2 separate regions of the Homo sapiens genome follow, and region 1 is linked to region 2. A link means that fine-mapping ties the variant in region 2 to the expression of a gene that starts in the linked region. Tissue or cell type: whole blood. Region 2 holds a variant in brackets; the other region holds the start of a gene. All regions are shown on one strand. Distances are from middle to middle.

The links. PIP is the estimated chance that this variant, and not a neighbour inherited with it, causes the effect.
Region 1: it holds the start of TMPRSS9, and the variant in region 2 is fine-mapped to the expression of TMPRSS9 in whole blood (INTERVAL, PIP above 0.99).

Annotation. Positions count from the first base shown.
Region 1 is chr19:2,356,150-2,363,974 of GRCh38, reverse strand. TMPRSS9 (transmembrane serine protease 9) reads right to left here and starts at 3,710. Exons shown (of 19, transcript NM_001395513.1): 1 at 3,615-3,710. RefSeq lists a silencer at 5,180-5,391.
Region 2 is chr19:2,464,477-2,472,301 of GRCh38, reverse strand. No RefSeq gene overlaps it. Among named protein-coding and RNA genes, the nearest start is that of LINC01775, 6.2 kb to the right of the region's middle. RefSeq lists an enhancer at 2,652-2,751. The variant C/T (reference allele first, on the strand shown) is at 3,134.

The DNA.
Region 1 (7,825 bases), 110 kb after region 2:
GAGAGTTGATCCAGCCCTCCCAATAATCCCAGGGTATACAGGAGACAGGTCCAGCTAATATCAGCATGCCCATTTACAGAGGAGGAGATTAAGGCTCTCTCTGCCTCTCCCTCCCTCCCTCCCTCCCACTCTCACTCTCTCTCTCTCTCTCACACACACACGCGCGCACGCACACACACACACACTCACACACAGAGTTCTTGGAATTCTAGTGACTCCTCCACATTGCTGGGCAGCTTCCCTGTTATGCTCCCCGAGAACCCTGCTCCCCAGCTAAGCCAGGTGAGCCTGGGGGACCGAGGGGCGCAGGGCCGGGAGCTCTAAACCCTGCCCCAGTGTCGGCACCCAGGGTCCAGTCCTGCCTCCCCAAGCACCAGCTCCATCACCCACAGTTGCACGCACAGATGCACGGGGAATCACGCGACCTCACTCCCTCCCACACTCTCGCCTGTCCCCCCACCCCCCCACAACTGCTCCTACCTCAAATCTCCACCCATGTGTCTGCCATCAGAGAAGGGACGCCTTTGCCTTCATTCCGCCCTCACCTGCGATCCATCTACCATGCCTCCACGTCTCCGCAAAGCCCTTAACCAACCACAGTGACAACAGGGTTTGAACTCCGATGCTCCAGCGTTCCTGCAAGCTCTCGCCCCGCGGACAGAGTCCCCAGCCTGGGCAACCGGCCACCAACACCTTTTGCCTAAGGACTCTCCAAGCTCCGTATTTTACACCCTAAACATTCCAAATTCTGCAAAGGGAATTTTAGACAGTCCAAGAATGCTCTTTAGGGACGGGACCCAGCGCGCAGTGGGCCACATGGTCCCCAACTCACGTTCACACGCTGTGGGCAGCGGGGCACACACGGACTCCCATTCCGCGTGGCAGGACAAGCAGGCGGCGTGAGGCTCTGCAGGGCCCAATTACCCCACGGTCAGGCCAGCCTGAGCGCTGGGACCCTGATCCCCATGCCCCAGATGAGAAGACTAGGAAGAGGGGATTTGCACACACAACCACAACCTCACACAACACACACACAACACACAACCACACACAACACATTACCACACACAACCTCACACAACCAAACACAACCACACATTACAACCTCACACAACCACACACCACAACCACACACACCCTCACAAAACACACCTCACACAACCACATACAACCACACACAACCTCACTCCACCATCCACAAATTATACACAATCTCATCATGCAAGTACACACACAACCACGTTACAACTCCACAAATCTCACATACAATGACCATACAGCTAAACACAACTTCACACATATAGTCATACACTGATACAATCACAACTCCACCATACACAGTCATACAGACACGATTACACATATTGCCACAATCATATGCAATCACACACAAACACAATTATACAACCATACACAACCACACAAAGCCATCCACAAAATCATGCAATTCTCATCATGCAATCACACACACAACCGTACACTATAACCACACAGCTGCAGAAACCTCCCATACAACACACAACCATACACGGTCTCACACATGCAGTCACACACCCATACACACAATTACACCTCCACCACAATCACAGGCACAATGACACACATGGCTGCACAGTCACACAATCTCGCACAACCACACACAATCCTATACAATCACACAAACATCATGACATAACTATACGCAACCACACATGACCACACAACTATACACACAGTTATACAGCCATCGACACACAACCATATACGATCCCACCCGACCACACAATTACACAACCATACACAATCACGCATGACATGACACATGACCACACACAACCATACACAATCACACAATTACACAACATAAACGATCACTCATGACCCCACACACACATATAATACACAATCACACACAAATCACATGGCCATATGCAGCTACAGACACAATTATATATATTGCCACACACAACCACACATCACACACAATCACATGATCACACACAATCACACACAGCCACACAGACAACTCACCCAGAATCTCACACAGCCCCACCCAGCCAGGCCCCCAGGAAGGCGTCAGGAAGCCAGGACCACAGGTGTCCTGCGGGGCATCCCTGATCTGCAAGGCGGTGGCCACCACGCGGCCCACAAGGTGTTTCCGGCCATGCAGTCCTGCGGGGCAGTGCCTGAACCCTTTGGCAAGTCCCCAAAACCTCTGGCAACCTCTGGAGCCCATGCCTGGGTCCGAGGCCTGGTTTGACCCCCTATAAAATGACGGAAGGAAGTCGAAGGTCCCTGGGCCACAGAGGACCCTCGAGCACGGACGCCTGTCCTGGGGACCCCGCCCTAATTCCCAGAATGTGGGTCATTCCCGGTCATGCGGGGATAACGCCACGGTCCCCAGCCTGGGTTTCCTGCCGGGGCTAATTGAATCCAGGAGGACCCTCCCTCAGGCAAATACCAACAACCCACCCCATCTCAGGCCCTTCACCCACCTCCAATTGTTACATCCCAGTGTGTGTTTACTCAGAAGCGGCTCCGAGGGTGAGAACTGGGGCGGGAGGAGAGGCTCCAGTCAGATGCCTGGCACCCACTCCAGCCCCGCCTCCCACCCCAGCCCCCCCTCCCACCCCAGACTCACCTCCCACCCCATCCCAGCCCCGCACCCCACCCCACCAACCCATCCCAGCCCTGCACCCCACCAACCCATCCCAGCACCCCACCCCATCCCAACCCTGCACCCTACCCCAGCCCCACCTCCCACCCCAGCCTCCCACCCCAGCCCCACCTCCCACCCCAGCCTCCCACCCCAGCCCCGCACCACACCCCAGACTCACCTCCCACCCCAGCCCTGCACCCCATCCCAGTAGCTGTCAGCCCCTTTCCCGCCACCCCTGACCCCAGAGGGCTCCAGGCTGATGCTTGGTTCTTGCTTTAGGTGAAGTTCACGGGTAGAAAAGAAGGGAGGACTCTGGGTGGGAACAGGGATGGGGAGGGCTTCGGCGGTCCCAGGCCCCTCCAGGAACTAGGCCGAATCTACACACCCCAGCTGTATCTACACATCTCAGCTGCATCCACACAATCCCGGCTACGTCCACACACCCTGGCGGCATCTACCCAGCCTGGCCTCGTCTAGAAATCTCAGCCACATCTACACACGCTAGATACATCCACACAATCCCGGCTGCGTCCACACAACCCTACGTGCATCTACACACCACACCTGAGTCCACACAACCCCGGCCGCATCCACACGCCACACCTGCGTCCACATAACCCCCGCCGCATCTACACACCACACCTGCGTCCACACAACCCCTGCCGCATCTACACGCCGCACCTGCGTCCACACAACCCCGGCCACATCTACACGCGGCACCTGAGTCCACACAACCCTGGCCGCATCTACACAACCTGGCCATGTCTACACACCCCAGTGGCGTCCACACAGCCCCGGCTGCCTCTCCACAACCCCGGTGGTGTCTACACAGCCTGGCTGCATCTACACACTCCCGCCACGCCACCTCTACACAGCCCCAGAGGCAACCAAACAGCCCCGGGGCTTGGCGAATGGGGTTGGAGGAAGTGGGGGCTGTTCCGAGGGGAGGCTGAGCCCGCAGGAGACCCCGACTCACCGGGGTTGGAGGAAGTGGGGGCTGTTCCGAGGGGAGGCTGAGCCCGCAGGAGACCCCGACTCACCGCGCTCCGGACGACGAGGCTGCACCGCTACTGCCCGGATCCCGCCCACCCCGAAGTGGAGCAGAAGCCGGAGCTGGGCCCGGGGCTGGAGGAAGGGAGGGGCGGGGCGGGGCCGGGTGGGGGAGCCGCCCCTCCCCCGGCCCCCTGCCAAGCCCCTTCCCCAGTACCTCCTGCTCCGGGCCGGGGGTGCCGCCCAGGCTTGGAGTCTCCGGAGGACAGGGGTCCCAGGGCTCTGCCACCTCCACCCTGGATTCCCAACCCTGGCGGGAGCCAACCCAGAGTGGAAGACGATGGAGATGGGGAGGGGTTGGGGGTAGCCAGGGATGGGAGTGGGCTTCGCAGCTGGGAGCCATGGGGTGGGGGTTGCCCGCAGAGTGGGCGCTGTGGGCAGGTGGGCCCACCTGGGCAGGTGACTCAGGACAGGGCGCAGGGAGGGGTGTGCCCAGGACAGCCCTGGGGGCGAGGTGCTGAGGGCGTTTTCTAGGGCACTGGTGTAACCATTTTGTGTGTGTGTGTGTGTGTGTGTGTGTGTGTGTGTTTTGAGACAGGGTCTCATTCTCTGTCGCCCAGGCTGGATTGCAGTGGCGCGATCTTAGCTCACTGCAGCCTTGACCTCCCGGGCTCAGGTGATCCTCCCACCTCAGAGTCTGGAGTAGCTGAGACTACAGCCGCCTGCCACCACACCAGGCTAATTTTTGTATTTTTAGTAGAGATGGGGGTCTCACCATGTTGCCCGGGAAGGAACTACAGTATTTTTAATATAAATTTTTAATTTTTTAAAAAAATAGAGATGGGGTCTTGCCATGTTGCCCAGGCTGGTCTCGAACTCCTGGGCTCAAGCCATCCTCCCACCTCGACCTCCCAAAGCGCTGGGATTACAGGAGTCAGCAACGTGCCCAGCCTAAACGTTTTAGAAGAGTTTTAGATTCCCACAAAATGTGCAAAGACAGTTCAGAACTCCCCTGTGCGCCACATCCCGGGTCCCCTGTTACTGGCATCCAGGCCAGTGTGATACATTTGTCACAACCAATGAACAACTATTGATGCACGACTGTGAAGTCCACACTTGATTCCAGTTTCCTCAGTTTCCCCCAATGCCCTTTCCTGCTCAGGGCCCCACCCGAGATCCCACGTGGCATTTAGGCGTCACGCCTCCTCGGATCTCTCTGGGCTGTCGCAGTTTCCCAGACATTCCTATTTCTGACACCCTGCCCGCTCCTGGGGAAGGCAGGTCAGGTGTTTTGCAGGACACGCCTCAAGTGGGTTTGTCTGGTGCTTTTCTCCCTCATGGTCAGACTGGGTGGCCTCAGTTTTGACGCGCCACCCGCTGCCACGCTGGCCGCCCCTCCTGCTTAGGTCACCAGGTTGTTCACGTTCCTCCGTGCCGTCGAAGGAGACGGTGCACTTCGTTAGAACCACTGTCTCCTCTCTTATCTCAAGAGACTTTGCGGAAATTTTTTTTGGAACTGCCTTTAGAGACCAGCCCCATTTTATTACCTTTGGCAGAGCGTCTTTGTTGGTGATTTGCTTTTGAGAAGTGCCGCAAGTCCCGGGGAGCCACGCCTGGTGCTGGAGGGAGAGCAGTCCTGGAGGATCCAGCTCCTGGGTCCACGTTTCCCCAGTCGCCCGCAGAATGGTCCAGTCTACTGAGTATGTGCTGTGTGCCCGGCACTCGGCAGGGACTCCCCTAGGTTCTCATGATGGCCTCACAAAAGTAGCTGTCACCTCCTTTTAAGCAGAAGAAGTGGCTACAGCCCTGAGAGCCAGTCATCCAGCTCCTGGGATTCAAGCTGGGGCTCCACACCCAGGGCCTCCTATTGCTGCATTCTTCTGCCCACCCTCCTGTCAGGCTGCAGGCTGCGGTTGGTTCCCAAGAGGCATTTCTAACCTGCTCTGAGCCGTGTGGAGAAGAGCCTGTGACCCCATGGGAACCCCCTCCTCTCTTCCTCAGGGCCATTGGTGGACTCTTTCCAGAACTCCACCCTCTCACCTTCTGATGACTTCCCACCTGGCCCCAAACACTGAGTCCCGGTTCCTCGTGCAGCTATAGCAGCTCTCTGCCTGGGCCAGACGGGGTGCTTAGTAGAGGACCTGGCACACAGCAGTGAAGAGTGGTGGGTGGATGAGTGTGTGTGGATGGGTGGATGGGTGGTTGGGTGGATGGAGGGATGGATGGATGGATGGACAGACGGACGGTAAATGGGTGAATGGATAGATGGGTGTGTGTGTGGATAAATGGATAGATGGGTGTGTGTGTGGATAAATGGATAGATGGGTGTGTGTGTGGATGGGTGGGTGAGTGGGTGGATGAATGGATGAGTGGATGGGTGGATGGATGGATGGATGGGTGGGTGAGTAGACAGGTGGATAGATGGGTAAATGGATGAGTGGGTGGGTGGGTGGAAGGTGGGTGGATGGATGGTTGAATGGAAGGGCAAATGGATGGATGGGTGGGTGGGTAGATGGATGGATGGGTGGGTGGGCAGATGGATGGATGGGTGGAGGGGTAAATAATGGGTGGATGGATGGGCAAATGGATGGATGAGTGGAGGGGTGGGTAGATGGATGAATGGCTAGATGGGCAGGTAGATGGATGGATGGATTGGTGGGTGGGTGGATAGGTGGATGGATGGATAAATGGGTGGGTGGGTGGATGAATGAATGGGTAGATGGGTGGATGGGTGGATAGATGGGTGAGTGGGTGGTTGAATGGATGGATGAATGGATGGATGGATGGATGGATGGATGGATGGATGGATGGATAGATGGATGAATGGGTGTGTGGATGGGTGGGTGTGTGGGTGAGTGGATGGTTGGGTGTGTAGATGGATGGATGGATGGATGGATGGATGGATGGATGGATGGATGGATGGATGAATAGATGTGTGAATGGGTAAATGGATGGACAAATGGATGGTGGATCAATGGATGGAGACGGATGGGTGGATAAGTAGGTGGATGGGTGTGTGGATGGGTGGCTGGATGGATGGATATGTGGATAAGTGGATGGGTGGTTGGATAACTGGGTGGATGGGTATGTGGATAGGTGGATGGATGGTTGGATAAATGGATAGGTGTGTGGATGGGTGGGTGGGTGGGCGGGTGGATGGACGGATAGATGGATGGGTGTGTGGATGGATGTTGGATAAATGGATGGGTGGATAGATGAATGAGTGGATGGATGGGTAGATAAATGGATGAGTGGGTGGATAGGTGAATGGGTGGATGAATGGGTGGATAAATGGGTGGATGGGTGTGTGGATAGATGGTTGGATAAATGAGTGGATGGAGGGTATGTGTATGGACGGATGGATAACTGAACAGACAGGTGGGTGAATGGGTGGGTGTGTGGATGAACAGATGGATAAATGTGTGGACAGATGGTTGCATAAATGGGTGGGTGGGTGGGTGGATGGATGCATGGACGGATGGATGGATGGACAGACGGACGGACGGATGGATGGATGGTTACATAAATGGGTGGGTGGGTGGATGGATGGATGGGTGGATGGCCAGTTGGATAAATGGATGGATAGGTGGGTGGATAAAAAATGTGTAAGCTCTGGTCAGCTTAGTGAAAGAAAATCACTATTGTTACCATATTGCTCCACTTTGTAACTTAAACTGCAAGACAGAGGGATGCTCCCCACGAAAAGAAACAAAATACCCTCCCCAGTGCCAACAAGCAGCCTGTTTCCATTTCCCCAGCTCTACCTCTCCCTGACATCCCTGGACCGTGTGTGACCTGGACAGTCGAGGTGTGCACACCCCCCGGAGCTCAGGCACCGGCTGAGCCTGGCAGGAGCCCGTCTTCCTGAATCAAGTGTGTCACTAGCACAAAAGTCCCGACTGCTTCTAAGCGTCCAATCAGATGGCTGATTTGGTGACATCCTGGCTGTCGTGCCTTGCAGTAGGTACATTACTAACCCTCTTTCCAGAGGACAGGGAGTTGGAGGCAGAGGGACTTGCCCACGACCGCAGGTGGTCACAGGTGGACGTGGTGTGAGCCCAGGGCTCTGTGCGCTGAGTCCTGACTGTAACTTTCAGCCCTGAGGCTCAGGTCCACCGGAGCTAATGACATAGCGACTTTTTCTTTTCCTGGACAGGACAAATCACCACTAGAGGCACACAGGGGAGGTGTTCAGAG
Region 2 (7,825 bases):
GCCTGGGCAACATAGGGAGACCCCATCTCTACAAAAATTTTAAAAATTAGCCGACCGTGGTGGTGCGCACCTGTAGTCCCAGCTACGTGAGAGGCTGAGGTGGGAGGATCACTTGAGCCTGGGAGTTTGAGGCTGCAGTGAGCTATGATTGTGTCGCTGCACTCCAGCCTGGGCAACAGAGGGAGACCCTGTGTCTAAAAATAAAATAAAATAAAAAATGAGATCAATAACAGTGTCGCCGAGGCCATCTTGGAGCCTGAGGTGAGAGGAATAATCAGTATGAGTAATCCTGTCATAATCTTTTTTTTTTTTTTTTTTTTTAGACAGAATCTCGCTCTGTCACCCAGACTGGAGTGCAGTGGCGCAATCTCAGCTCACTGCAACCTCCACCTCCTGGGTTCAAGTGACTCTCCTGCCTCAGCTTCTCAAGTAGCTAGGACTACAGGCGCCCTCCACCACACCTAGCTAATTTTTTGTATTTTTAGTAGAGACAGGGTTTTGCCATGTTGGCCAGGCTGATCTCGAACTCCTGACCTCAAATGATCTGCCTGCCTCGGCCTCCCAAAGTGTTGGAATTACAGGCGTGAGTCACCGTATTTGGCTTTAAACAAAATAAATTTTTAAAATTTTATCCAGCATAGAGGTTTTTGCATTCATTCAGAGTTAAAAAAAAAATGTGGCCGGGTGTGGTGGCTCACGCCTGTAATCCCAGCACTTTGGGAGGCTGAGGTGGGCAGATCACGAGGTCAGGAGATCGAGACCATCCCAGCTAACACAGTGAAACCCTGTCTCTACTAAAAATACAAAAAATTAGCCGGGCGTGGTGGCGGGCGCCTGTAGTGCCAGCTACTCAGGAGGCTGAGGCAGGAGAATGGTGTGAACCCAGGAGGTGGAGCTTGCAGTGAACCGAGATCGCGCTACTGCACTCCAGCCTGGGTGACAGAGCAAGACTCCATCTCAAAAAAATAAGTAAATAAAAATAAAAAATAAAAAAACGTACTGCAGGCTGGGCACGGTGTTGCGGGGGGGCTTTGAAGTGATTAGGGTCAGATGAGCTCATGAGAGTGGAGTCTTCTAATGAGATTAGTTCCTTTCTCTTTTTCTTTTTTGAGACAAGGTCTCCCTGTATTGCCCAGGCTGGAGTGCAGTGGTGTGATCATGACTTCGTGCAGCCTCTGTCTCTAAGGGTAGACTCATGCCTGTAATCTCAGCCCCTTGGGGGCCAAGTGGGGAGGATCGCTTGAGCTCAGGAGTTCGAGACCAGCCTGGGCAACCTGGCAAGACTCCCATCTCTACAAATAATTTTTTTTTTGAGACGGAGTCTCGCTCTGTCACCCAGGCTCTGTCACCCAGGAGTGCAGTGGTGTGATCTCGGCTACTGCAAGCTCCGCCTCCCAGGTTCACGCCATTCTCCTGCCTCAGCCTCCAGAGTAGCTGGGACTACAGGCGCCCGCCACCTCGCCCGGCTAATTGTTTGTATTTTTAGTAGAGATGGGGTTTCACCGTGTTAGCCAGGATGGTCTCGATCTCCTGACCTCGTGATCCGCCCACCTCGGCCTCCCAAAATGCTGGGATTACAGGTGTTACCCACCACGCCTGGCCTTTTTTTTTTTTTTTTTTTTTGAGACGAAGTCTCTCTCTGTCTCCCAGGCTGGAGTGCAGTGGCACAATCTCAGCTCACTGCAACCTCTGCCTCCCGAGTTCAAGTGATTCTTCTGCCTCAGCCTCCCAAGTAGCTGGGATTACACTGCGCCCGGCTAATTTTTAGTAGAGATGGGGTTTCACATCTTGGCCAGGTTGGTTTCGTACTCCTGACCTCATGATCCACCCGCCTCGAGTTCCCAAAGTGCTGGGATTACAGGTGTGAGCTACCGCACGCAGCCACAAATAATTTTTTAAAAATTAGCCAGGTCTGATGGGCACACCTGTAGTCCCAACTACTCGGGAGGCTAAAGCAGGAGGATCACTTGAGCCCAGGAGTTTGAGGCTGCAGTGAGCTATGATCGCACCACTGCACTCCAGCCTGGGCGACAAAACAAGGCCCTGCCTCAAAAAGAAAAAAAAAAGTGGGGGCGGGCTGGGTGCAGTGGCTCATGCCTGTGATCCCAGCACTTTGGAAGGCCAAGGAGGGCAGATCACTTGAGGTCAGGAGTTCGAGACTAGCCCGGACAACATGGCGAAACCCCGTCTCTACTAAAAATACAAAAAGTTGGCCAGGCGTGGTGGCAGATGCCTGTAATCCCAGCTACTCAGGAGGCCGAGTCAGGAGACTCACTTGAGCCTGGGAGGTAGACATTGCAGTGAGCCGAGATCATGCCACTGCACCCCACCTGGACAACAGAGCAGGACTCTGTCTCAAAAAAAAAAAACGGTAAAAAGTCAGGTTCAAGGGGCTCTGGGGGCAGAGGTCCCAGGCAGCAGGCACAGTGTTTGAAAAGGCCCTGACGCAGGACCTCACCTGTTGCATTTGAGGAATCCCAAGGAGGCCCTGGGGGTGGAACAGAGTAAGCAAGAGGGAGAGCCGGGAAGATGAGCTCACAGAGACGGGCTTTGGGGGCTGCGGGGAGGGGTCTGCGTGTCACTCCGGATGTAGCCAGGAAGTGATTGGCAGCGGCTGGGCTCTGACATCATGTTTTTCTGCAAAGATGAACAAAACGAGCAAGACATGACTCCTGTCCCCAAGGAGAGGTTTCGGGATGGAGCTGAGTCATCATTTGAACTTGCAGACATTTGTAAGACAGGCCTGGGGTGGGAGGAGGTGGGATCACCACGCCAGGTGGCAGCGGAGGCTACGGCGAAGGCTGAGGCACATTTGGGAAATTCTGAGGACAGTGGCAGGGGAGGGGCAGGGAAACTGTGCACAGCAAGAGGCTGGCAGGTCTGGGACTATGCCTCGCAGAGAGAGGGAGAAGGAGAGGCTCTGTCTGAGGTCACGTTTGCCTGGTTCAAATCCCACCTGCAGCCGTCATCAGCTGTGTGTCCTTGGGTTGGTGGCTTAGCCTCCCTGAAACTCCCTCTTTTCATGGGAAAAGTCAGGTTGTGGAAATGTTTACCCAAAACAAGGACCTAGAATGGGCTTGGCATAGAAAGTGCTCCGTACACCTCCCCTACTGTAGTGACCTCGAAAGCCACT[C/T]GAATGCCGGACGCGGTGACTCACACCTGTAATCCCAACACTTTGGGAGGCCAAGGCGAATGGATCACTTGAGGTCAGGAGTTCGAGACCAGCCTGGCCCACATGGTGAAACCCCCTCTCTCCTAAAAATGCAAAAATTAGCTGGGTGTGGCGGAAGGCGCCTGTAATCCCAGCTACTCCGAGAGGCTGAGGCACGAGAATCGCTTGAACCCGGGAGACGGAGCTTGCAGTGAGCTGAGATCGCACCACTGCACTCCAGCCTGGGAGACAGAGTGAGACTCTGACTCTGTCTCAAAAAAAAAAAAAAAACAGAACGGTATATCCATCAGGCAGGACATTCCTGGGGCCTAAGAGTCACCTCCCAGTGGCTGAAACAAAAGCCAGATCTCTCTCTGGTCGAGGCAAAATTTCTTGCTACACAATGGACAGGAATCATTCGCCTTGCACTGAGTATTTTACAACTTACACACTTGCTCACAGACATCGGAACAGCTGGAACCCCCGGCAGCAGGCATTGCAGACAATGCTAGCATGGTGGGCAGCTTCGGGCCTGGCTCCAGTGATCCCCCAGGGTGGTTAATTTTTTTTTTTTTTTTTTTCTTAGAGATGGGCTTCGCTCTATTGCCCAGGCTTGAATGCAGTGACATCGCAGCTCACTGCAGCCTTGAACTCCTGACTTAAGGAATCTTCCCATCTCAGCCTCCCAAATAGCTGGGATTGCAGGCATGGGCCACCACACCCCGCTATGCAGGGGTTCTTCCTGCCCACTGCATAAAGAAAGACCACGTGACTGGGTGCAGGGGCTCACGCCTGTAATCCCAGCACTTTGGGAGGCCAAAGTGGGAGGATTCCTTGAGTCCAGGAGTTTGAGACCAGCCTGGGCAACATAGGGAGACCCCCAGTCTAACAAAGTATTTTACTTAAAAAAAAAAAAAAAATAGAGGCTGGGCGCGGTGGTTCACACCTGTAATCCCAGCACTTTGGGAGGCCGAGGTGGGCAGATCACCTGAGGTCGGGAGTTCGAGACCAGCCTGGCCAACATGGAGAAACCCCGTCTCTACTAAAAATACAAAATTAGCCGAGCATAGTGGTGGCGGGCGCCTGTAATCCCAGCTATTCGGGAGGCTGAGGCAGGAGAATCGCTTGAACCCGGGAGGCGGAGATTGCAGTGAGCTGAGATTGAGCCACTGCACTCCAGCCTGGGCAACAGGGTGAGACTGTCTCAAAAAAAAAAAAAAGAAAAGAAAGGAAACAACGAAAGAGAAAGAGACCACAGCATTGTAGTAGAGAAAGAGTTTAATAGACATGAGGCTGGCCACGCCACGTGGGAGATGGAATTCATAAATCAACTTGTTCAAACCTCATAGGTTAGAGGTTTTTCTTTATTGCGACGAGTCTCGCTCTGTCACCAAGGCTGGGGTGCAGTGGCGCCACCTCAGCTCACTGCAACCTCTGCCTCCTGGGTTCAAGCAATTCGCAACCTCTGCCTCCTGGGTTCAGGAGGTTCTCCCGCCTCAGCCTTCTGAATAGCTGGGATTACAGGTGCACGCCACCACATCCAGCTAATTTTTTTTTTTTTTTTTTTGGTGGAGATGGAGTTTCACCATGTTGGCCAAGCTGGTCTCGAACTCCTAACCTCAGGTGATCCGTTCACCTCAGCCTCCCAAAGTGCTGAGATTCCAGGCGTGAGCCTCCACGCCCAGCCTAGGTTAGGGGTTTTTCAAGGGCAGTTTTGTGGGAAGGAGTGGGAGTGGGCCAGGTAAACAGGTGCTTGCTGCTGGTTGGTTGGGGGCAGAGATGGACTCACAGCAGGTTGCAGGGGTCCTCCTGCCGGCCAGATCGCTTCTGTGTGGAACCTCAGGAGCAGGGTTGTCAGTCCAGGTGGAGCCACGGGTGTCAGACATGCAAAACACGTGGAAAGACATCTCAAAAGGCCAAACTACAATAATGGTGTTATTTGCAGGAGTAATTGGGGGAACCACATCTCTTTTTTTTTGTTTTTTTTTTGTTTTTTTTTTGTTTTTTTGCATGCTGAGTTTCGCTTTGTCGCCCAGGCTGGAGTGCAGTGGTGAGATCTCGGCTCACTGCAACCTCTGCCTCCCAGGTTCAAGCGATTCTCCTGCCTCAGCCTCCCAAGTATTTGGGACTACAGGCATGGGCTACCAAGCCTGGTTAATTTTTGTATTTTTAGTACAGATGGGGTTGCACCATGTTGGCCAGGCTGGTCTTGAACTCCTGGCCTCAAGTGATCCACCCGCCTTGGCCTCCCAAAGTGCTGGGATTACAGGCGTGAGCCGCCGCACCTGGCCTGGAAGCTGCATATCTTATAACCTCCAGAATAACGTTTGCACCTTAACAGATGTCAGGCTCCCCTCCTCCCTCAACCTGAAGGCCTCAGGTTAGCTTGACAAAAGCTGTTGGGTTTTGTGCAAGGTCTACTATCACTTAAACTGTAGCCTAAATGTCTTCCCAAGTTAGCTGGGCCCAATAGCCCAGGAATAATTAAGGCAAGATGGGGGTTAGTTAGTTTAGCCTACTGTTATAATTTTCTCGGCTGGACGTGGTGGCTCACGCCTGTAATTCCAGCACTTTGGGAGGCCAAGGCGGGCGGATCACGAGGTCATGAGATCGAGACCATCCTGGCCAACATGGTGAAACCCCATCTCTACTAAAAATACAAAACTTAGCTGGGCATGGTGGCGCGTGCCTGTAGTCCCAGCTATTTGGGAGGCTGAGGCAGCAGAATCGCTTGAACCCGGGAGGCGGAGGTTGCAGTGAGCCGAGATTGTGCCACTGCACTCCAGCCTGGGCGACAGAGCGAGACTCCGTCTCAAAAAAAAAAAATTTTTTTTTCTCACTGATAGAACTTTTGCAAAGGCGCTTTCAGCTAATTTTATTTTTTGTAGATATGGGGCCCTGCTCTGTTACCCAGGCTGGTCTTGAACTCCTGGCCTCAAGCGATCCTTCCTCCTTGGCCTCCCAAAGGGCTGGGATCACAGGATGAGCAGCTACTGCACCCGGCTGTATGATGCTTAATTTTTTTTTTTTTTTTTTTTTTTTTGGTGACAGAATCTCAGTCTCAGTCTGTCACCCGGGATGGAGTGCAGTGGTGCAATCTTGGCTCACTGCAACCTCCACCTCATGGGTTCAAGTGATTCTTATGCCTCAACCTCCCCAGTAGCTGGGACTACAGGCACCTACCACCACGCCTGGCTAATTTATGTATTTTTTAGTAGAGACGGGGTTTTGCCATGTTGGCCAGGCTGGTCTTGAACTCCTGACCTCAAGTGATCCACCAGCCTCAGCCTCCCAAAGTGCTGGGATTACAGGCGTGAGCCACCGCGCCCCGCCCGGTGGTTAATTTTATATGCCATCATGGCTGGGCTGTGGGTGCCTGCATATTTGGTCAAACATTACTCTGTGCATGCCGGTGAGGGGGTTATTAGATGAGATGAGCCTTTGACCCTTTGCATCAGTAGACTCACTGAGTCACTCAAACCCACTACCCTCCCTAGCACGGGTGGGCCTTGCGGAATTCACTGAAGGCCCGGATGGAATACAGAGGCTGCCACTCCCCTGGGGAGCAGAGAATTCCTCCCACCTGAAGGCCTTCAGACTGGAACATCAGCTTTTTCCTGTCTTCAGACTCAAACAGAAAGATCAGCTCTCAGCCGGGCATGGTGGCTCACGCCTGTAATCCCAGCATTTTGGGAGGCAGGAGACTTGAGGTCAGGAGTTTGAGACCAGCCTTTCCAACATGGTGAAACCCTGTCTCTACTAAAAATACAAAAATTAGCCGGGCGTGATGGCGCATGCCTGTAATCCCAGCTACTCGGGAGGCTAAGGGGGGAGGATCATTTGAGCCCAGGAGGCAGAGGTTGCAGTGAGCCGAGATCATGCCACTGCTCTCCAGCTGGGGCAACAGAGCGAAGCTCCATCTCAAAAAAAATAAAAATAAAAAGGAACATCGGCTCTCTTGGGTCTCCAGCTTGCAGACTTCAGATGTTGTGACTTGTCAGCCCCCGTGCATCAATACCTTATAATAAATCTCTTGGCCGAGTGTGGTGGCTCACGCCTGTAATCCCAGCACTTTGGGAGGCCAAGGCAGGCGGATCACCTGAAGTCGGAAGTTCAAGACCAGCCTAATCAACATGGAGAAACCCCATCTCTACTAGAAATACAAAATTAGCCAGGTGTGGTGGCGCATGCCTGTAATCCCAGCTACTGGGGAGGCTGAGGCAGGAGAATCGCTTGAACCCGGGAAGCAGAGATTGTGGTGAGCCGAGATTGCATCATTGCACTCCAGCCTGGGCAACAAGAGCAAAACTCTGTCTCAAAAAAAAAAAAAAAATCTCTTATTCTCTCTCCCCTCCTGCTGGTTCTGTTTCTCTGGAGAACCCTGACTAATTCACCCCCAGCTCCTCCTGATGAACGGAGGCAGGCCCTGGACAGCAGTGGGCCAGGATTTGAGGCTCTTGGTCTAACAGTCTGCAAGGAACAGAATCCTTCTGACCACGTGTGAGTGAGTCTAGAAGTGGACTCTGCCCCAGAGACACCTTGGTTGCCACCTTTCAGAGCCCTGAGACAGAGGATGCCAAAGTTAAGCCACATCTGGATTCCTGACCCACAGAAACTGTGAGATAAGAAAAGTGAATATAAGCTGGGCACGGTGGCTCATGCCGGTAATTCCAG